Regions from separate parts of the Homo sapiens genome. Here region 1 is linked to region 2. The links come from fine-mapping of genetic effects on gene expression. A gene starts in region 2. The other region holds a variant in brackets. All regions are shown on one strand. Distances are between the middles of the regions. Region 1 holds the start of NAPSA (napsin A aspartic peptidase). Region 2 holds the start of KCNC3 (potassium voltage-gated channel subfamily C member 3).

Region 1 (11,362 bases), 34 kb after region 2:
GGGGGAATGGTATCCTTGCCCCCTTGAACAGGAACTGGTAAACCCTTACCAATTACGGCCAACCCCCACTGCCACCTGTCGCTGCCGTCGCAACCTGTCGCCTCCCACCCATGTTGTGGCTGCGCCCGCCCCCGTCAGGGCGTGACCACGGCGTGGATTACAACGACCGTGATGCTCCACGGCGCCGGGAGCTTTTGACGGAAGGTAGCGTAGGCGAGGGGCTTCATGGGACTCGTATTACAAAACCCCTCACCAGGGTGCGTCCTGGAGAAAAGGGGTGATACCCTTCGCCTCCCTCTTCCTCAACTCCATGGGTACAGGCACAAAGTTTTCTATTATTATTTTTGAGATGGAGTTTCGTTGTTGCCCAGGCTGGAGTGCAATGGTGCGGTCTTGGCTCACTGCAACCTCGGCCTCCCAAGTTCAAGCCATTCGCCTGCCTCAGCCTCCCGAGTAGCTGGGATTACAGGCATGCGCCACCACTCCCGGATAATTTTTTTTGTATTTTTAGTAGAGACGGGGTTTCACCATGTTGGCCAGGTTGGTCTCGAACTCCTGACCTCAGGTGATCCACCCGCCTCGACCTCCCAAAGTTCTGGGATTACGGGCGTGAGACACCGCGCCCGGTCACAAAGCTTTCTCGTTAAAAAGTACGCTCTGAAAAGAAGCAACCCAGGCAGGTTCGCTCAATGGAAATAGTGGATTTTTACTGGGTAGCAGGACCTCCGCGACCACCCGCTGCGCATGCGCTTCACTTGGGCGTCACCCGGGGAACTGCGCCTGCGCAGTCTCTCCCCATCCGAGGTCCGCTCCGCGAGTGCGAGCGCGCGCCAGGCCCACCCGGGCGCTGCTCTTCATGTCCCCGCGGTCGAAGACGGCCACATACGTCCCCAAGAAGACGTCACCGAGGATCCAGAAGGGCCCTGCAGGCGGAGGGACATCCAGGGCCTGGAAACCGGACAAGCAGAGGCGGACGCCATTTCGAGTAGTCTGCAAGGCAACAAGACGACAACTGGGTGTCGCGGCCACAAGGACGGCCATTTGCCTGGGAGCCCGTCCATCCCCCCCACCCTCGGGTTCTTTGATGTTCGCCAACAAACTGCCATCACAGGGAAAAGAAATGTTTCTGTGGCCCCTTCCCTTCCTAGTGACGTCTCTCAGCTCTACCCTCTCAAACCGTCATATGACGTCACTATGGCGTCATGGTGATGGCCACCTACCTGGATGACGTAATCATGGGCCGTGAGGTTAAACCAGACCCCCCCAAGAAGGAAGGAGACTGCGGGGAGCTTTGGGATTTCCGAGCACAGGATGATGTACTGGGGGAGAAGAGGAACTAGTGAAGATGAGAGATTCCTGCTCTGTTCAGTCCCTTCCGTGGCTCCCCAGTGCCATAGGGTAATTTCCCTATTGAGCACCTGGGTACTCAGCGTCCTGTGTGCAGAGGCCCTGCCGCCTAGACTTACGCAGTCCCAAGCAAACCTGCATGATCGTCTCCCTCCACCCGGCCACCATCCGCAGAGTCGCAGTGTAGACACGTGGAAAGTGTCCTCAATTCCTCCACCACCCTCCAGACTATCTGTCACGAAGTCCAGTGCCTGCTGCCCTGGAAAGCCCCTTAAATACTTGCCTCCCACCCTCAGGCCCTTTGATGTTCACTGTCAAACTGCCATCAGCCTTCCCAGCCCGTACCCACCAGACTGGGACCTCACCTCCCCAGCCAGCAAGGGGATTCCCCCAATGGCTGCATGCAGGGCCCGGATCTCCTCAGTGGGTCCTGTGATGAGGGACGTGCCCGTATCCAGGATGGCAGCACAGCCCTTGGCACAGAGAGTCAGCCCTGGGCCCACCTTCACACTGAGGGGGAAGGAGGCAGTCATCAGAGGCAGGGTCCTAGGAGTCCAGGCCCCCAGCCTCCAGCTCCAGAGCCAGGAGACCAAGTCCCTCACCGCTCCATGTGGATCTGCCAGTAGGCAGGGACCGTGACTGGCACGAAGGTGAGGGGTGGGATGTAGTGTGCCGGGTCCGAGCCCCCCAGGACCAGCTCTCCTCCATCAGGCTCTTCAGGGTCCCTGCAGGGGCAGAGTGTAGAGAGTGTAGATGTCAGTGTCACTGGCCCTCCCTCAGCCCTAGGTATTGCCAGGAATGGCACTTCCCACCAACTGGGTTGTTTCTGGAGTTCCTACGGGGTAATGGGATGCAGGAAGGGCCTAGATGTTGGGACTGGAAGCCGGGCAAGAAAAGCATGATGCTTTTCTTGGTGGAAGCTAGAACTTCCTGAAGTGAAGACGAGACTTCATTTGGCTGTGGAAGGTAGAGTTTTGGGGAATTTCCTGAGCTGAATATCATAGTAACCAAGTAGAGCAGTGGTGTCTTGGAATTGGCTCTTGAAGGTGTGACTTGTGCAGGGGTGGGGTGGCTTCCTGAGTAGGAGAAGAGAATTTCTGAATTGCCTGTTGTGATATCTAGAGAGGTGTTAGACTTCCTGAGTTGGCTGAGAGCGATGGGAACAGGGATGGAGACTTCCTGGAAGGTGGAGGAGAGCAGGATCTGCTAGGTGGTTGGTAGAACTGCTAGAGTGGGTTGGATGTCAGGGTAACTGAGTGGGCATAGGATTTTCTGACTGTGTGTGACAGGCCTCTGGGAGGGAAAGTGGAGACTTCTTGGAAACTTCTTGGATGTTGGGTGGGACTTCTGAGCATAATACTGAACTTCCTAGCAGGTGAGTGGGACTTCCTGGATTAAATCGGGCAATTCCTGACTTCTGGTCAGTGTTCTCAAATGGGATTTGAGCATTCTTTGTGAGGAAGAGAAAGCTCCTGAGTATTTTGTTGGGTGGGGCATGGAATTTCCTAGTTTGATTTTGAAACATGGAGCATTCTGAACTGATGGTGGGTTTCCTTAGTATGTCTTAAGTTGTCATTTAAGCTCTGGGACTTCGAATAGGGTTGAGGTGTTTCTTTATAGGGCAGGTGACTTCCTGCATGGAGGATGCAACTTCTTGTATTGAATGGCTGACTTCCTGAATGGACAGTGTAAGTGGGTGACTCTGAGAATGAGAATTCCTGCATTGGGTCAGTGACTTCCTGAAGGAAGACTCTCTTCCTTCTTGGGGATAGGACTCATAGATAGGTGCACACTTCCCAGTACCTGTTGAGGTAAAAGGAGAAGACAGGCTTATCCAATAGCCCCTGCTCCACCAGTACATCCATCGGGGGCCGAACTCCTTCCACAGACAGAATGGGAAAACCGAGGCCCAATATCCCATCAAAATGGGCAAAAGCGAAGACCAGGCTGGGCTCCCAGAGAGCCTCCCCGAAAATCACTGATGCACCCTTGATTCCACCAATCTAGGGGTAGATTGAGATGTGACCAGTTACTTTTGGGAGGACAATAACCACATGTCCTGAGGTCTCCCAAACCAAGGCATGAATCCTAGGTCTGGGGACTTCTGGATGCAAGCCCCAACTTCCTAGGAAACTATGCCTCTTGAGAAGCCCCACCCCTTCACCCAGGAACCCCTTTCTTCTCCTTGAGAAGCCCCACCTCTTCACCCAGGAAGCTCCTCCCCTGCTTGAGAAGCCCCACCTCTTCACCCAGGAAGCTCCTCCTCCCTGCTTGAGAAGCCCCACCTCTTAACCTTGGAAGCTCCTCCCCCCTGCTTGAGAAGCCCCACCTCTTCACCCAGGAAGCCCCTCCCCCTCCTTGTGACGCACCATCCCTTCACTCTGAAAGGCAGGCCCTCCTCCCCACTTGAAAAGCCCCATCCATTGGCTTGGGAAGCTCCTCCTCGAGCCTCTTCCTAAGCCAGATGATCTTAGACAATGGGGTTCTCCCAGGCTCAAGACTTCTGAGAGTCAAAGGCCACTCACAGTCAGCTTGTCCTCGCTCAGGATTCCATCTACCCGCCCAGTTCCATATTGAATGGCAAACTTGGTCCCATTGGCCTGGAAGGAGCTAGAGGCTTTGGGATCAAATCGGTGGTGTAACCCTAGGTTAGAGGTCAGAAAGGTGTCATGGGGGAGGGAATCTCCCCAGTGCCTACTGCCCCTTTGACTTTCTGACCTGTGAGGGCATGATAAAAGAACAGTTCCTCAAAAGCCTCTGAGAAGCTGAGGTCCAGCCCCGCCTCCTCCCTTCACCCCCATTCAGCCTTATTCTCCCACATAGAAGCTCACAGCAGGGCACACTGAAGAAGTGGCATCTCCTGGACGGGACCCAGAGATTGGAGGAGCCAGTGTCAAAGGCAACAGTGAAGTTTTGTGGAGGCGTTCCCAGCCCAATTTCCCCAAAATACTGCACCTGATAGCAAAAGAGGAGAGTAAACGAAGAGTTTGGCTCAAGGGCGCAGGGGTGAGGGCTGTGTGGGGCTGTGACTCACATCCCTGTAGTTCGAGAGAGGTACGAAGATGGGCTTGTCCCCAGGGGATGGGGCCCCCAACTTGGGGAGCTCTGCTGGTTCTCTCCATCCCCTCAGTAGGTTCAGGATCCTGCGTCCAGGTTGGACTCGATGAAGAGGGATGCTGTAGGGAAAGAGGATATTGACAGGAAGCTGCCCTTCTTGGAGAACCTCTAAATAGACTTACCCAAATAGGATATGATGACAAATTCAACATCTCCAAGGCACTACAATAGTAGTCAGTACCAGAAACCCTGCAATAACAACCTCCAGAAAAGCCCATCAAAGATGCCATGATGACAAATATCCCCAAAGACTTTACAAGAGCAAACCATCCCAAACAGACCTTTCCATGTCCAAATCCCTTAAAATAAGCTATTCCCAAGGAATTGACATTCTTAAAGATTTCCCAAGACCCTAACAGAAAACCTAACCTTTGCAAAAGCCCTTGGGTGGTGGCCCCTGCATGCTTCAGTTCGTGAGGTTAGGGACTATTTTCCCCACCCTTGAGGAGAAAAATGTAAGCGTCAAATCTTAATTGTCTTGCTGTGTTGCCCGTGCTGATCTCAAACTCCTGGCCTCAGCCTCCTAAAGTGCTGGGATTACAGAGGAGAGCCACTATGCCCTGTCCGGGTTCCTTTAAACTGTATTTGCAAAAGCAGGAGGCAAACAGGATTTGGCCCTTAAGCTGAGTGTTTGCAACCCTTGACTTAGAGGGCCAATTACAATTCAGGTATCTTAGTTGCTAATTAAGTAGGTCTAGGATGGAGCCGAGAATTTGGATTTCTAACAAGTTCCCAGGTCATGACGATGCTGTTGATACAACATTTGGAGACTCATTTTCTTTGCATTGACTTAGAAAATGGCCATGAGACATTAGGTTCAAAAAGCAGGTTAACAAGCACCATGTGCGGTAATATCTTCGTTCCTGCCTTTAGTCACTCCTTGAAGCACTTGTCACATCACTCACACCTTTCCCGTCACCCCCCATGAGTCAGTCTTTGAGAGGCACGAGAATGTGAAGTGGGGAAAACTCTTCCTGGAAGTGTACACCCCTCCCCCTACCA[A/G]GAGTTCCAGGGAATGAAGACAAGAGAGGAGAAAAAGAGAGATGGGGGCGGGGAGGGGACATCAGAGGTAAGGTAGTGGGAAGACTTCTTGCATAGGGTCCCCAAGATTGGATTTCTTTTTCTTCTTTTAAACTTTTTATTTGAAACAGGGTCTCCCTCTGTCACCCAGGCTGGAGTGCAGTAGTGCAGTCAGGGCTCACTGCAGCCTTGATCTCCAGGGCTCAAGTGATTCTCCCACCTCAGCCTCTGGAGTAGCTGAGACTATGGGCACACCACCACACCTGGCTTTTTATTTTATTTTATTTTATTTATTAATTTTTTTTTTAGACAAGGTGTCACCCTGTTGCCCAGCCTGGAGTGCAGTAGCAGGATCATAGCCCACTGCCCCCTCGAACTACTGGGCTCAAGCAATCCTCCTTCCTCACCCTCCTGAACTAGCTGGGACCATGGGTGTGCACCACCACACTGAGCTAATTTTTGTATTTTTTGTAGAGGTGGAGTCTGGCCATGTTGCCCAGGCTGGTCTCAAAACTCTTGGCCTCAAACAAGCTTCCCACCTTGGACTTCCAAAGTGCTGGGTTACAGGTGTGAGCCATGTCTCTGGCCAAAAACATGACTTCTTCAGGCCAGTTTGATGGGCGTGATGTGGGGGAGTCTCAGTTTAAATGTCACATATCTGGGGCTCGAAGATGGGAGGAGTGTGTCACAGGTCTGGAAACCACAGTACCTAATCATCAGAGCTCATAGTAGGGTCTGCAGAGACCTCTCAAAAACATGTCCTGGCCAGGCGCAGTGGCTCACGCCTGTAATCCCAGCACTTTGGGAGGCTGAGGCAGGCAGATCACGAAGTCAGGAGTTCAAGACCAGCTTGGCCAACATGGTGAAACCTCATCTCTACTAAAGATACAAAAAAAATTAGCCGGGCATGGTGACTCACGCCTGTAATCCCAGCACTTTCAGAGGCAGGAGAATGGTGTCAGCCTGGGAGGTGGAGGTTGCAGTGAGCTGAGATCGCGCCATTGCACTCCAGCCTGGGCGACAGGGCAAGACTCCGTCTCAAAAAAAAAAAAAAAAAAAGGCCAGGCGCGGTGGCTTACGCCTGTAATCCCAGCACTTTGCGAGGCTGAGGTGGGTGGATCACGAGGTCAGGAGATCGAGACCATCCTGGCTAACACTGTGAAACCCCATCTCTACTAAAAATACAAAAAATTAGCCGGGCGTGGTGGCGGGTGCCTGTAGTCCCAGCTGCTTGGGAGGCTGAGGCAGGAGAATGATGTGAACCCGGGGGACAGAGCTTGCAGTGAGCCAAGATTGCGCCACTGCACTCCAGCCTGGGCAACAGAGTGAGACTCAGTCTCAAAAAAAAAAAAAAAAAAAAAGTCCTGAGAGGAGGGGGAGGGGTCCTCAATCTAGAGTCTCAGTGTTGTAAGATCTGGGACTTAAAAGGGCTCTGGGACCGGACGCGGGGGCTCACAGCTGTAACCACAGCACTTTTGGAGGCTGAGGCGGAAAGATCACTTGAGGTCAGGAGTTCAAGACAGCCTGGCAAACATGGCGAAACCCCATCTCTACTAAAAATACAAAAATTAGCCGGGCGTGGTGGCATGTGCCTGTAGTCCCAGCTACTTGGGAGGCTGAGGCAGGAGAATCACTTGAACCCGGGAGGCAGAGGTTGCAGTGAGCTGAGATCGCCCCACTGCACTCCAGCCTGGGTAACAGAGCAAGACTCTGTCTCAAATAATAATAATAATAATAAATAATAATAATAATAATAATAATAATAAAAGGGCTCTGGTCAGCCAGGCGCGGTGGCTCACGCCTGTAATCCCAGCACTTTGGGAGGCCGAGGTGAGCGGATCACGAGGTCAGGGGTTCCAGACCAGCCTGGCCAACATGGTGAAACCCCGTCTCTACTAAAAATACAAAAATTAGCTGAGCATGGTGGCGCGAGCCTGTAATCCCAGCTACTTGGGAAGCTGAGGCAGGAGAATCGCTTGAACCCAGGAGGCAGAGGTTTCAGTGAGCTGAGATCATGCCATTGCACTCCAGCCTGGGCAACAGAGTGAGACTCCATCTCAAAAAAAAGAAATCTGGTCTTAAGAGATGTCAGAGTGGAGCCCTTAGGGGTGACAGCCTGGTTTAGAGATCTGGAAAGCTGAGAAAGAAGCTCTAGGGATCCTGGGTGCCAAGTTTGGGGATCACTGAACTGGGAGTCCTAGACTTAAAGGGCAAGAGGCAGAAAATCCCTCCTAAGGTTGGGGTGGTAGATGGGGTCACCATACCGGATCAGTGTGGCCCCGGAAGGCTCCACATTCAGCAGAGGCAGCAGCAGCAGCAGGGGTTGCAGCAGCGGTGGTGGAGACATCGCTGGGGACCTGGGTGTGAACCCAGGTGTCCTGGGGCCTCATTTTCTTTCCCCTGTGACTCCACCCTGTTCATGCCCCACCTCCAGGTTTAGAAGGAGACCAGGACATGAAATCTGTCCGCAGGTGACGCAGTGGGACAAGGATGTTTTTTGAAGATTTGTGCAGAGTATTTTTGTAGGGTTGGCAGAAGTAGCATCCTGTGCTCCTGGTGCTCCTCACTCCCTACTTGGGTGGCAGTGGTGGTGGGGTCTCCTCCACCGTCACCACCTCCCACCCCCCCATCCTTCAGCTGCTGTCAGTTTTACTTTTAACTTTCACATAACTTTTCTGAGACTTATTAACCACAAGTGTTTCCTTGGCCAAGTGGGAGAGACCAGCAGGTATCTGTGAAGGGCCTGGGGGAAGGGAGAAAGGACATGATTAGACACCTGCCCTCACATATGAAGTGGGCCCGCATTTCAGGACCCAGTCTCTTACTGTTTTATTTGTAGGTGAAGTATGTTTCTTGTTGACAACAGATCATTGGGTATTGTTTTTTGTTTGTTTGTTTTTGTTTTTGTTTTTTGGTTTTTTTTTTTTTGAGACCGAGTTTCACTCTTGTTGCCCAGGCTGGGATTACAGGCATGCGCAACCACGCCCCACTAATTTTGTAGTTTTAGTAGAGACAGGGTTTCTCCATGTTGGTCAGGCTGGTCTAGAACTCCCGACCTCAGGTGATCCGCCCGCCTCAGCCTCCTAAAGTGCTGGGATTACAGGCGTGAGCCACTGCACCCAGCTGATTCTCAATTATTTCAATCTCTTTGTTAAATTTATGTGATGGAATCTGAATTCCTTCTGTGTGTTAGCTTGAATTTCTTTGAGTTTCCTCAAAACAGCTATTTTAAATTCTCTGTCGGAAAGGTCACATATCTCTGTTTCTTCAAGGATTGGTCCTTGGTGGCTTATTTGATTTGTTTGGTAAGGTCATTTATTCTGGATGGCCTTGATGCTTATAGATGTTCATTGGTGGCTGGGCATTGATGAGTTATTTATTTATTTATTTATTTATTTATTTATTTATTTATTTAGATGGAGTTTTGCTCTTGTTGCCCAAGCTGCAGTGCAATGGTGTGATCTCAGCTCACTGCAACCTCTGCCTCCCAGGTGCAAGTAATTCTGCCTCAGCCTCCCGAGTAGCTGGGACTACAGGCACCCGATACCACCCTGGCTAAATTTTTTTTTTTTTTTTGAGATGGAGTTTCACTCTTATTGCCTAGGCTGGAGTGTAATGGCGCCATCTTGGCTCACTGCAACCTCTGCCTCCTGAGTTCAAGCGATTGTCCTGTCTCAGCCTCCCAAGTAGCTGGGATTATAGGCGCATGCCAGCTAGTTTTTGTATTTTTAGTAAAGACAGGGTTTCATCATATTGGTCAGGCTGGTCTCGAACTCCTGACCTCAGGTGATCCACCTGCCTCGGCCTCCCAAAGTGCTGGGATTACAGGCATGAGCCACCGCACCCAGCCTACACCCAGCTAATTTTTGTATTTTTAGAAGAGACAGGGTTTCACCATGTTGTCTAGCCTGGTCTCAAACTCCTGACCTCAGGTGATCTTCCTGCTTCAGCCTCCCAAAATGCTGGGATTAGACATGAGCCACCATGCCTGGCCATGTTAGGTATTTATTGTAGTCTTTGCAGACAAGGCTTGTTTGTACCTGTCCTTTTTGGGGAGGCTTTCCAGGTATTCAAAAGTACTTGGGTGTTGTGATCTAAGCCATGTCTGCATTAGGGGGCTCCCCAAGCCCATTAATGCTGTGGTTCTTGCAAACTCATAGAGGTACTATCTTAGTGGTCTTAGATAAGATCCAGAAGATTTATCTGGATTACCAGGCAGAGACTCTTGCTCTCTTCCCTTGCTTTCTCTCAAACAGAGTCAGTCTCTCTCTCTCCCTCTCTCTCTCTCTCTCTCTCTCTCTCTCTCTGTCTCTGTCTCTCTCTCTCTGCTGAGCTACCTGGAGCTGGGAGTGGGGTGACACAAACACCCCATGCCTACTATCACTGGGATTGCGCTGGGTCCTGCCCATGGCCTCCTGTAACCACGACCTACCTGCCTACTGCTTATGTTTGCTCAAGGCCCTTGGGCTCTAAAACTAGCAGGTTCCAAAGGCAGCCATGCTTGCATCCTTCCCTTCAGGGCATCAAGTTACCTCAGGTCCCAGGTGGGTCCAGAGATACAGTCAGTGAGCCAGGGACTGGAGTCAAAACCCTTAGAAATCGGCTGGATGCGGTAACTCATGCCTGTAATCCCAGCACTTTAGGAGGCTGAGGCAGGCGGATCACTTGAGGTCAGGAGTTCGAGGCCAGTCTGGCCAACATGGTGAAACCCTGTCTCTACTAAAAATACAAAAATTAGCCAGGCGTGGTGGTCAGCGCCTGTAATCCCAGCTACTCGGAAGGCCGAGGCAGGAGAATCACTTGAACCTGGGAGGCGGAAGTTGCAGTGAGCCAAGATCGCGCTGCTACACTCCAGTCTGGGCGACAGAGCAAGACTCCCTCTCAAAAAAAAAAAAAAAAAAAAAAGAAACAAAAGAAAGGCTAGGTGCGGTGGGGGTGCGTTTGGGAGGCTGGGGGTGTCATCCCAGCCCTTTGGAAGGCTGAGGCAGGAGGATCGCTTGCGCCTGGGAGTTGGAGACCAGCCTGGGCAACAAAGGGAGACCCTGTCTGTACAAAAAAAATGTAAAAATTATCTGGGCGTAATGGCACACTCCTGTAGTCCCAGCTACTGGGGAAGGTGAGGCTGGAGGATAACTTGAGCCTAGGAGGCTGAAGCTGCAGTGAGCCGTCATCACGCCACTGCACTCCATCCCAGGTGACAGAGTGAGACACTGTCTCAACAGAAATAAATAAATACATAAATAATGGTAAAGATCCACTTTGTGCACTCCTTGCTCTGGGGGATTTTCCTGAAGCAGCCGAACGTGTCCCTGATAACTGTCACCACCCCCCTTTGTTTTCTCAGTCAGAGCACTCGATCTGGGCCCCTTCAACTCGCCCCGCACGCTTTCCGTCTGCAGCACCCCATCCAACTGCACCCAAGCGCCCTTAAGTAGTTTGAGAGGCCGTGCCTGCAAATTCCCAATTGGCCACAAGGTGGAGGTGTGGGCCTGTTTTCCCAGCCAAGATTCCCCAGCCGCCACCCGTTTCTAGAGCTGGACCCCTGGAACACCAGGCTCTCTCCAGCTTTCCTGCTTCCGCCCTAGCAGTTCCCACCGCCTGGAATGCCGACTTGCTCGCTCTCTGCACCCCACGGGAAAAGGAGCAGAACAGGCTTCCTCCCTGACTCCCCTGCCCAAGCGTACTGGGAGATCTCCTGCCGAACACGGCCCGGCCAATGGGACCTGGATCTCCCCATGTCTTGTCTCTCAGGGGGTTGTGACCGAGTGGGCCTCCACCATCAGAGGAGCACAGTTTCCAGAATCGCCCAACACAATCTTTCCCGAATCCCCTCAGGAAGTGATTAGGTAAAGGATTGCCAGATTTTTAAACCCGTCAT
Region 2 (11,362 bases):
ACCTTGTCTGGGCAGAAGGTGATGCGCATGAGGAACTCGAAGGTGAACCAGACCACGCACACCCCCTCCACGTAGGTCAGGAAGGGCTCCGTCTCCACCTCCACGTTGGTGATGTTCTCCGGAGGTGCCCCGGGGATCGGGGAGGCCTGGGTCACCGTCTTGTTGCTAATATGGATGAAGCCCTCATGGGTTTCCAGGCAGAAGGTGGTGATGGAGATGAGGATGAAGAAGAGGGAGGCGAAGGCCACATACTGCAGGGCAGGGAGGGAGAGAGAGGGGGAGAGGTGACCTAGGCATCAGGTTGGCCATAACATCCAGAAGACCCTTCCAGTGCCCCCTTCCCCAGCCTCCTGGGCCCAAACTCTGGGCAAAATCCAGGTGTCTCAGCCCTGTGGCTCCATCACTTCCAGAATCCCATTCTCCCCTCTAAAGCTAGCAAAAAGGGAGAGAAAGGAACAGAGGCAGTTGGAGAAGAGCTGGCCCCAGCAGACGCAGCAGATGGGCAGCTTCTTTCCTTGGAAACATTTCTGGCCCCTTGCTGTTTCCTAGACCACCTCCCCCCACCCTCCTGTTCCCTGTGTCCTATTTCAGGGCCCCCCAGCAGGGTCCACGGGTTCTGCTGTGGGACGGGAGCCGCCAGGCCTAAGATCACACATCCTGTGTGTCTCGGAGGCTTTAGGGCTCAGCTTGGAGCTGGGCAGACGGGAAGGGAGAAGGCGGGCAGGGAGGCAGAATCGTGAGGTGGTTAAGAGTCGGCGAGCCTGGGCATGAATCTGGCTTTTAACCTGTCAAAACTGGGCAAGGAGACTGAGCTTTCTGAACCAGAAGTTTGTAGTGGGATTGTTGTGAGGATTAAATTAGATGAGCGTACGAAGGACTTGGCTCCAAACACAGTGCTTGGAGCAGTGCCTGGAACACAGTAAGAAGACCTGAGCTGTTGTTAGGGTATGCAGGCAGCAGTTAGTTGGGGGGCAAGGTCAAGGCCTCACCCAGAGAGGACAGGGCAGTGGTGGTGCCACAGAGGGGAGGTGGGGGTCCGGGCCCTTAAGGGAGGAGGGGTTGAAGGGTTAAGCCTGCAAAAATGGAAGAGGAGATAAAAGAGGAGAGTCAGGCAGGGTTTAGGGCCCTGAAGAGGAAGGAGAGTCACTGGCCTGGACATTGTGGGAAAAGGCAGAGCCAGGGCCAAAGAGAAGTTAGGGCATTTGCCAAAGGGGCAGAGAATGAGGGGTGAAGGGTCCTGAGCCATTTCAAGATGGGGGATAACCAGAGTCCTGCCACACAGTGATGTGGGTTTTGATGAAGGCCTAGAAGAGGAGGGAGTGGGGTCAGGGTCTTGGAGAAGGAAAGCAATGGGCCAGGCCCCTAGAGATGTCATGGGCTTTATCAGATATGCAGAGGGGTGGGAGGGGAGAGGAGTGCATTGGAGAGGGAAGGAAGACAGGTGTTATAGTAAAGAGAGGGTTTTAATCCTGCGGGTAGTGGAGGAGGGAGGGCATGGGGAGTTTTGCTATTAATCAGGGGCACAGAGCACGGGGAGGCCACTGCTGGACCACAGAGAGGACCTTGGACTTTGGGGTGGGCCAAGGGCCAGCACTGTCCCTCTGTGCACCCCCCTTCCTCCACAGGGGTTGGGCTCTGGGCTTGACTTCACTGAGGTGCAGAGCTGGGAAGTAGTGGGTGGAGAGTTTCGGGGCCACAGAGAGGACCCTGGACGTTGGGGTGGGCTGGGGGCCGGCGCAGGTCCTCTCTGAACTCCCCCCCCACCCCCACCTTCGCTTCTCTGCAGTGGTTTAAGAGGCCAGAGGCCTTCGCAGAGCGCATGCCTAGTTCCCCGCCCCCTCCGAGCCGGGCGCGCGGCGCTAGCTGCGGCACCGCAGTGGGGGCGGGCCAGCCGGGCCGGGGGGCGGGGCGCACGGCGGCCAGTACCGCGGACAGCTCCCCCGCCGCAGTGCGCAGCCGCAGCGGCTAGGGGCCGTCTTAACCCCTTCCGGGCCGGAGCCTATTCAACGCGCAGCCGCAGTGTTGCTGCTTTCCGGCGGGAGGCCAAGGGCCAAGAGTCTAATTAACTCCTTCCCTCCCAGGGCACAGGGAAAGGTGGGCACCCGCCGCAGTGCGCAGCTGCAGAGGCTGGACGGCGTCGGGCTGGTTTAACCCCTTACTCCAGAGTGTGTCAAAAGCAGAAGGGGTAGGAGGGCATGGAGTCTCTGTAAGAAGGAAAGGAGTGATTACGAGGAAGGGGGCGGGGGCAGGGGGCTGTAGGGTCGGACCCTCCACTTTGCTTTGGCCTCAGCTCCCAACTCTCTCAAGCCATATCACTGGGAGGCTGGAAAGGGCTCGGCACACCTTGGACACCCAAAACACATTGGCGGAGTAAATGAGTATCTCCCGTAGCTGTCCCGAACACCTAGCCTGACCATCACAGAAGAACTCTAACTTCATCCCGCTCCTCATCTCAGCACCCTTCAATGGGGTCACAGGAGAGAAGGGCGCCCCGGCCATGGGGGAAGGAGCCGCTCAGTGTCTTGAGGGGGCATCCAGGGCCATGTCCCTTCCGCACCTCCTCTTCCCCACCTCCCCCCATCCAACCCCAAATCTCGCCAACTCAGCGCTTTCTGGGGACCAAACTTTATGCGGTGGCTCCAGGCGTCCCCCCGCTCCCTCCCCCGGCGCGAATGCGGCACTGCGGCTCCGCGTCCTTCCCGGCTCAGGACGCGGCACGGTGGGGGGAGGGGGCCAAGACCTGCTCCTCTGTGTTTGGGTACCCAGGAGCCCAGGAGGGGGTCTTGGGATCGCTCTTATTTCCCCCATTTCCAATTGCCCCCATTTTGCACTGCCCCCCTTTTCCACCACATTCTCCCTCCGGGGTCCCCGGGACAGGGAGGAAGTTAGTAGGAGGAAATGGTTCAGGAGAGAACCCAGGGGGAGGGTAGTCATTTAGCCTAGGAAGTTATGGATGCTTGAGGAAAGTTTTCTGGGAGCGATGGAGAGAGCTTTGGGGAAAATCTAGAATTTGGAGAGAGAGAGAAGGCTCTTTGGTTCACTTTGATGGAGGGGGACAGACTGAGGGGCTAGGTTCTGGGTTTTGCACGGCGGGGGGGGAGGTTCGAGAAAGGAAGAGGGCAGGTGGAAGGAATCCCAGGGCAAGGTAGAAAGAATTGTAAGTTATTTTGAGATGAAAGTTTTAGGGCTGATGACTTGAGGGGCCTCCCAGGGTTTGAGGTTAGAAAAAGTTCTAGAGCAGGAGGGAAAGTCACTTAGACTAGGAAACGGGCTGTGGGGGCTTTGGATGGGGGGAGTCCCAGGGATAGAGAGTGCACTGTGCAGTTAAAATGATGGAGAGGAGAAGCTGCGAGGATCTATGGAGGAGGAAGAACAATTCTGGAGGACATGTGAGGGTTCTGGAGAGGAAAGGCATATGATGGGGGCATGGGATGCTTCTGGAGGCACTGAGGAGGAGTGTGAAAGGCTTGGGGGAAGTCTGGAGCTTTATGGGGAAAGTCCTTGAGATGGGAGTTGGCGTGGAGGTTGAAGAGTGTTAAACACAGAGTGAACACAGAGGGGGCCTGGAGGTTCCAACGGAGAAGATGCCCCAAGACTCAGTATTGCAGTGAGGGGGAGGTGAAAATGTCCAGGCAAGAACAAGTGGAGGTTTAGAGGGGTCCAGAAGGCTGTGAGGTTGGGGTGGGGGAGTTTTCTGAGACTCTGAGAGCAGAAGATACTGCAGGAAGGGAGTGGAAAAAATAATCAGAAGATTCAAACTTGGAGAGAGAGGTCTTCTGGGAGACGGGCCACGGGGTGAATCGGGGAGGTGCTGGGAGAGACTGAGAGTTGAATAGGGGGCCCCAGAGAGTCTGGAGAAGGCAGGGAAAGTGGGGGTCAGGGCTCACAGGGCCTAGGAGAATTTGAGGGCTGAGAAGGGATGTCTTCTGAGGGGCTGGGGAAGGTCCAAGAAACCAAGGGCTGGACGGTGACCAAGAGTAGTGAGAAGAGATTTGATGGGGCCCAGGAGACATGAGGGTTGGGGAGGGTCTCAGAGGAGCCCAGGAAAGGTGGGGACCGGGTTGTTCAGAGAAGCACGGGAGATTCACGGTCTGGAGGAAGTGTCTAAGCGTCTAGGGTGGCCTTGGCGGGGGAGGGGGAACTTTGGAGGGGTCTGGAAGAGCCCGAAGGTTGGAGATCCGTCTTTGGAGGATCTGGGGGATGGCTGCGAGAGGGGGGTGTGTTCGGAGGAGCCCAGGAGACTCAGGATTGGGGAAGAGGCTTCTAGGAGACTGAGAAGCCTAGAGGGACCCGGAGGGTTGGAGCTGGGGCGCTCCTGGGAGACTGGGGGCGCCTGGAGAGGCGGGGGTGGGGTGGATGGGGGCCCCGAGAGCGCGCTCACCCTGGCAGCCCGCGACGAGTAGGGGTCCTCGAAGAGCGCCCACACGCGGGGCTGCCAGCGGCGCCACCATGTGCCGCCCGCGCCGCCCGCGCCCCCTGGCGGCCCCCCGGCGCCGCCGCCCGCGTCCTGGAAGCAGAGGCGCTTGAGCTCGCCGCCCGCTCCGTCCAGGCCGCCGCCGCCCGCGCCCGCCTCGTCGTCCAGGCCTCCGTCGTGGGCGCCTGCGGCGTTGGCGGCGTTGGCGGCGCCCGCGGGGTCGGGCGCCTCGAAGGAGTCGAGCGCCTCCTCAGCGTCGCGATGCTGCCGGTAGGTCATCCAGCAGCAGGCCTCCACGTCGGTCTCGTCGATGCCCCAGAAGCCGAGCTCCTCCTCAAACAGGGGCCCGCACACGTCGGCTGGGCAGTGCAGCTTGCCGGTGCGGTAGTAGTTGAGCACGTACGCGAAGACTCCCGGGTGCCGGTCAAAGAAGAACTCGTCGGCGCCCGGGTCGTAGTCGAAGCGTGCCGCCGCCTCGGGCTCCGTCAGGCCGGCCAGCCGCGTCCCCGGCAGGGTGCGCAGCGTCGAGCGGTACGTCTCATGGCGCACGCCGCCCACGTTGATCACGATCTTGCCGCTGTCGCCACCGCCGCCGCCGTGCCGCCCCATGGCCGCCGCCGGCAGCCCGGGGCATGGCTCGGCGCGCCGGTCCCCGGGCCCGCGGGGTGCCGGGGGGCCCGCCGGGGACGCGGCGGGGCCGGGCTGCGCAGGCTGCTGCTGCTGCGGCGGCAGCGGTGGCGGCGGCGGGGACTCGGGCGGCTGCGGCGGTGGCGCCGGCTGCTGCTTGCTGGCCCCCTGGCGCCCGCGGAAGGACGAGACGCAGACTGAGCTCAGCATTGGACGGGGGGCGGGGCGGGAGGGGCGGGGACGCAGGGGCGGGGACACGGGGGGAGAGACCGACGGGATTGGGTGGGAGGAGGAGCGAGGTAGCGGGGGCGTGGCTTAGGGGAGAGGAACCAAACTGATTGGCCTGGGGGAGGTGGGGCGGGGCTGTGGCTGGGAGGAGTGGGGCGGGCACTCTAACGCGACCCAGCTGGACGAGTCGGGGCCGCCAATGAGACGGAGCGATTGGCTCTTTCTAAGAGAGCAGGGAGGAGGGGCGGGGCGGGGCGTCAAGGGAGGCGGGACCGGTTACTACTAATTGTGTTCGGCAGCACTGGTAGCCAGGGGAAGGCGGGGCTAGATACGATAGAGAGAGACCTTACTGAACTGAAAAAAGTGCGGGCGGGGTAGAGGGAGGAGGGGACACATCCAAGCTATTTAAAGACGCCCGACTGGCCTGGAGGGGCGGGGCCACCATGAGAGAGGCCGTCCTGATTGGGCTGAGAAAGGGGCGGAGAGAAACAAAACAGATCGCACGCCCTCACCTAAAACACCGCTAGGCAGGACCTGGTGGGGAGGAGCATTGCTTGGAAGAGACAGGGCCGCAGAAAGTAGAAACGGTCCAGATGAGACTGCATGGGGCGGGAACTAGAGATGGAGGACTTTCCCGCGCAAGGGGGACAGGCTGGACTGAAAGAGGACACGGGAAGAACAAAGACTTAGACTCGGTGAGAAGGTGTTGAAACTTGAGAGAGTCCTGGAAACCCGAGAGGGTCTGGATAGGCCTAAGGGAGGGAGCGGGGCTGAGGCTCCAAGGCGGGCCTGGTTAGTCGGGGCTGGGCCCGGAGAATGAGTGTCCGGATGGATGAGTGGTACTGAGGAAGGTGAGTGGGGTCGACAAATAGAAAACGTCTTGAGGCAGGGCGCAGTGGCTCACGCCTGTAACGCCAGCACTTTGCGAGGCTGAGGTGGGTGGATCATTTGAGGTCAGGAGTTCGAGACCAGCCCGGCCAAAATGGTGAAGCCCCGCCTCTACTAAAAATACAAAAATTAGTCGGGCGTGGTTGTGGGTGCCTGTAGTCCCAGCTAGTCGGGAGGTTGAGGCAGGAGAATCGCTTGAACCTGGGAAGTAGAGGTTGCAATGAGTCGAGATCGCACCACTCCACTCCAGCCTGGGCGACAGAGCGAGACTCTGTGTCAAAAAATAAATAAATAAAAGAAAAAGAAAACGTCTTGAATGGGCGGTAGGAAAGAGAGACTAAGGAAGGAGCGGGGCTTGAGGGTCTTGAAAGCAACCAGGGTAGGCGAGGGCAGGGCAGGGCTAAGGGAGGGTAGAGGAACGGGAGAGGTGGATCCCAGGGGAACAATGAGACTACAAAGAGTACAAAGCTACTGGGCTGGATGGAGGGGAGGGACCTGGAACGGGGAGTCTTCGGGATCAGAAGACCTGGGAGAGGGCACTGCCTAAAGGTCACAGGGTCTCAAAGGGCGAGGCGAGAACTTCTAACGAACGCTACACCGCGGCGGACTGCAGATTGGAGGACCGAGGGTAGATGAGGACTGGTGAGGAGGGGGCACGCAAGGAGGCAGAGAGGACGGGAGAGGGGAGAGGCCAAAGCGCCAGGAAGCACCGTCAAGACTGAGGCAATATAGGCAGGACCGATAAAAAATGGGGTGGGCTAGGAGTCTCAGAGGTCGGGTTCTGGGGAAGAATGGAGTGAGGGGCGGGGCCAGAAAAAGGGGACCGCCTCGGAGCGGGCCGTCCCCGCCCCCTGGGCGGTCGTAGGCTCCGAGAGGCAGAGCGCAGGCTCAGGGGGCTGGGGCGGGGCCAGCGGCTGCGGCTGGGGCTGCGGAGGGAGGAGGCGGCGCCTGCGGGAGCGAAGGGGGCGGGTCAGGGGGCTGCGGGCGCCCTCGGGCAGCACAGTTTCTGGCCCGCCGCTTCCTGCTGCAGGTGCGGCGGCTGATTCGTATCGCCTCCCAACCCCATCCCACCCCCGCTCCCGTTTCTGGGTTTCTTGGCGTCTCTTTTTCTCCCTTCTTGAGTATTTGTGCCGCCGTCTCTGTTCCCACCCCTCTGAGTCTCCGACCCCTCGTTTGTAAATCTGCCCTCCTGGGTCTCTGATTCTGTCCCCCTCCTTCTGAGTCTTTGCTCCTCTTCTCTCTAGGCCTCAGTCTCTCCTCCCTGGTGTCTCAGTCCCCGCCCCCCCACCCCAGCTCCCCCGAGTCTCTTTCTCTTGGTTTCTGTACCATTTTATCAGGGGTGTGCCTCTCTGTCTGGGGCTCTGTACCGCACTCCCTGGGTCTTGTGTCCCTGTCCTCTACTCCCTCCCCGCAACCCGCTTTGTCCTGCCTCCTCTCTGGGTCTCTGCCCTTTCATCTGAGTCTGTCTCCTCCTTGCTCTCTGACAACCTCTTTCCCCTCCCCCTTCTTCTTCCCCTTCTCCCCATCTCTGGTGTATTTCCCCCTCCTTCTTCCCCTTCTCCCCATCTCTGGTGTATTTCCCCCTCCTTCTTCCCCTTCTCCCCATCTCTGGTGTATTTCCCCCTCCTTCTTCCCCTTCTCCCCATCTCTGGTGTATTTCCCCCTCTTCCGTCTCTTTCCCTCCTCTGTCTCTGCTCTTTCTCTTGCTGGCTCTCTGTTCTTCTCTCTCTCCCTCTAAGTTTCTGCCTCTTCACTTTCTCTATGTCCCCTCCCTGAGTCTCTATTCCTCCTATGTTTCACCTTCTTCTGGGTCTCTCTCTTTCTAGGTCTCTGTCTCCACTTCCTGGGGACCCTGTCCCCCTCTCTCTGGGTCTCCGTTCCTTTTTCTCAGACCCCCCATCACCCTCTCTAACCCCCGTCCTAGCTGGGACTGCGTCACTGCAGAGAGAGTTGCAGAAGTGGGGCCTGTCCTGCAGCCCAGGAAGGTCGTTGCCCTCACTCCCCAGACCCAGGGCTCTCCATTGCACCCAATCCATCATGTCCTTCAGCTTCTGATGGAATCCAAGAGGGCACAGAAAAGACATAGGTACTTCCTACCCCTTCCCCGAATTCTGGTGCACCCCCAGGCAGAAGCAGAGAATCCTGAGGTGAGGGACTGGGCTGGGGCTGGATGAGGCTCCTGGGCAATTGGGGGTGGGGTGGTGGAGGCAGGAGCAAGGGCTGGGTAGGCACTATGGGCTAGGTAAGGACCTCGGTCGCCATCCTCCTCCACACTCCCCCCTCAACCCTGCTTTTCCCTTCTGCTTTTCACAGCAGCCAGGCACGGTATCAAGTGGCTAAATCAGCGTTTTTTTGCAGAGGTCAGAAGTGTGGGAGAAGGTGGGGGCTGTGGGGAAAAGGGGCTGGAATAAGGAGGAATGTGCGATGCGACTCAGGATTAGAGGCCATGGGAGGGGAAGAGGCAGCGGGCCGGGAGTAGCAGGCTGGTCCGTCCACATTCCATCAGGCCCTGGGAAACTTGGATGCCAGCACTCCCTCATGGCCCTCCACAGACCCCACCAGGGTCTATGGGAGGATTTGTGAGCCTGGAGTCTCCACCCACCCATTAGAGAGGAGGGGGCTTCTGGAAGCTTCATGAGGGCTCCAAATACTGGACACTCAGCTATGTTCACAGACCAGGAGGAAGTAGACTCGACTCTTGACTAGGGACACCAGGAGGGGAGAGGCCAACGTCTGTCTCGTTTTCAGTTCCTTTCCCCACCCCTGCTCCTCCCAATCCATCCGTTCCCAGGCCCTCAAGACACAAAATTCCTGAAAGCTCCAACTCCCATCTACGTCATCTTCGGCGTCCCCTGATAACCCTCCCTCCCCCATTACCCCAGGCCCTGGAATTGGGGAAGGGTCTTCCCTCCCTGACTTCTACGACCCCTTCCTTGTTCCTCTGCCCCCATTCCCACCCGGTTCCATTCGGAGCCTTGGTCTCTGGACACCAAAGGTGAAAATGTGAGGACTCTCTGCCTACGATCCTTCGTCCCCTAAAACCCTCCAAGTACCTTGGCCCCGAAAGCTCAGAGTCGAGGGGAATCTCCCCGCTATAATCTTTGGGTCCCTGGATCCCAAGTCCCCCGTCTCCAAAACTAGGATTCGGGCTGTCTTACCGCCCCCGGACCCTGAGCCTTCGCCCCCTCCCCCGTACTCACCCCAAGTCGAGGCGAGGTGGGGATGGGGGAATCCGGGGCTCGAGATGGGGGGAGGGGTGACCCAGCCCCGGCAGCTCTGGGCAGCAAGAGGCTGCAGAGGGGGGAGTGACATCACCGCCGGAGGAGGGGCAGCACCGCTCCCCCAACCCAGGGGCTTCAAGCTCCGCCTTTATGGCGGACCCCGGGGTCCTGGAATGCCAAGGCAGAGAGGAGAAACAGGAGACGAGGTCCGAGGGAACGGTATCCCCGCCCCTTAGAACAGGAACTGGTAAACCCTTACCAATTACAGCCACCCCCGACTGCCACCTGTGGCTGCCGTCGCGACCTGTCGCCTCCCACGCATGTTGTGGCTGCGCCCGCCCCCGTCAGGGCGTGACCACGGCGTGGACTACAACGACCGTGATGCTCCACGGAGCCAGGAGCCTTTGACGAAAGGCAGCGTAGGCGAGGGCCTTCATGGGACTCGTAGTACAAGGCCCATCACAAGGGTGCGCCGTGGAGAAAAGGGGTGATACCCTTCGCCTCCCTCTCTTCCTCAACTCCGTGGGTCCATGCACAAAGCTTTCTCTTCAAAAAGTACGCTCTGAAAAGAAGCAACCTAGGCAGGTTCGTTCAATGGAAATATTGGATTTTTACTGAGTAGCGCTAGCTCTGCTACCCGGTGCGCATGCGCATCACCTGGGCGGCACCCGCGGTACTGCGCCTGCGCGGTCTCGCGCCTTCCCAGGTCCGCTCCGCGAGGGCGAGCGCGCGCCAGTCCCACTCGTGCGCCGCTCTTCATGTCCCCGCGGTCGAAGACGGTCACATACGCCCCCAAGAAAACGTCGCCGAGGATCCACACAGGTACTGGAGGCGAAGCGATGTCCAAGGCCCGGAAGCCGGACAAGCAGAGGCGGACGTCACCCTGAGCAAACTGCAAGGCGACAAGGCGGCAACTGGGTGTCCAGGCCGCAGGAACCACCATTTCCCTGGGAGTCCGTGCTCTCTCCGCCCCCAACCCCGGGGACAAGAAATGTTTCTGTGGCCCCTTCCGGCCCTAGTGATGTCCAACTACCAGCTCCACCCTCTCAACTCCAGTCATATTACATCACTGTGGCGTCATTATGACGGACACCTACCTGGATGACGTAATCCTGGGCCGTGAGATTAAACCAGACCCCCCCAATGAGGAGTGAGACTGCGGGGAGCTTTGGGATTTCTGAGCACCGGATGATGTACTGGTGGAGGAGAGGAACAAGTGAAGATGGGAGATTCCTGCTCTGCTCAAATCCCGTCCGTGGCTCCCCAGTGCCATGGAGTAATGTTCATATTGAGCACCTGGGTATTCAGCACCGTGTGTGGACAGCCCTGTTGCCTAGGCTCCTCTCATCTAGTCCCAAACAAAACTGCATTATCATCTCCCCCAACAACCCCCCCCCCACTCCCACCCCTACTTCACCATCCACTGAGCCACTTAGCATAGACACTTGGGAAGTATCTTTGCTTCCTCCCACCACTCTCTGGCATGTCACTTAAGAAGCCCAGTCCCCTCTGTCCTGGATACGCTCTAGCTACCTGCTTCCCATCCTCAGGCCGCAGTGTTCGCCATGGAATTGCCATCATCTTCCCCAGGACACACCCACCAGAGACTGGGACCTCACCTCCCCAGCCAGCAAGGGGATTCCCCCAATGGCTGCATGCAGGGCCCGGATCTCCTCAGTGGGTCCTACGATGACAGGTGTGCCTGTATCCAGGATGGCAGCACAGCCCTGGGCACAGAGAGTCAGCCGTGAGCCCACCTTCACACTGAGGGGGAAGGAAGCAGTCATTAGAGGCAGGGTCCTAGGAGTCCAGGCCTCCAGCTCCAGACCCAGGAGACCAAGTCCCTCACCGCTCCATGTGGATCTGCCAGTAGGCGGGGACTGTGACTGGCACGAAGGTGAGGGGTGGGATGTAGTGTGCCGGGTCTGAGCCCCCCAGGACCAGCTCTCCTCCATCAGCCACTTCAGGGTCCCTGCAGGGGCAG

The links.
Region 1: its variant is fine-mapped to the expression of KCNC3 in whole blood (TOPMed, PIP above 0.99).

What each region holds. Positions count from the first base shown.
Region 1 is chr19:50,357,791-50,369,152 of GRCh38, forward strand. NAPSA (napsin A aspartic peptidase) reads right to left here and starts at 7,849. Exons shown (of 9, transcript NM_004851.3): 1 at 7,749-7,849; 2 at 4,382-4,523; 3 at 4,179-4,302; 4 at 3,873-3,991; 5 at 3,151-3,350; 6 at 1,950-2,072; 7 at 1,713-1,857; 8 at 1,221-1,319; 9 at 687-990. The coding sequence starts at 7,831. The coding sequence ends at 763. The region is part of intron 3 of LOC105372437 (a long non-coding RNA gene); the gene reads left to right. RefSeq lists enhancers at 8,050-8,199, 10,993-11,052. The variant A/G (reference allele first, on the strand shown) is at 5,467.
Region 2 is chr19:50,323,832-50,335,193 of GRCh38, forward strand. It overlaps KCNC3 (potassium voltage-gated channel subfamily C member 3), which reads right to left and starts at 5,546. Exons shown (of 5, transcript NM_004977.3): 1 at 4,382-5,546; 2 at 1-251. The coding sequence starts at 5,251. LOC105372437 (a long non-coding RNA gene) reads left to right here and starts at 5,789. Exons shown (of 4, transcript XR_007067299.1): 1 at 5,789-5,964. It also overlaps the pseudogene NAPSB. RefSeq lists silencers at 4,409-4,498, 5,107-5,656, 5,737-5,796, 6,674-6,853, 6,867-7,236 and 2 more and enhancers at 2,163-2,684, 5,261-5,555, 7,817-7,866, 8,177-8,276, 9,787-10,739.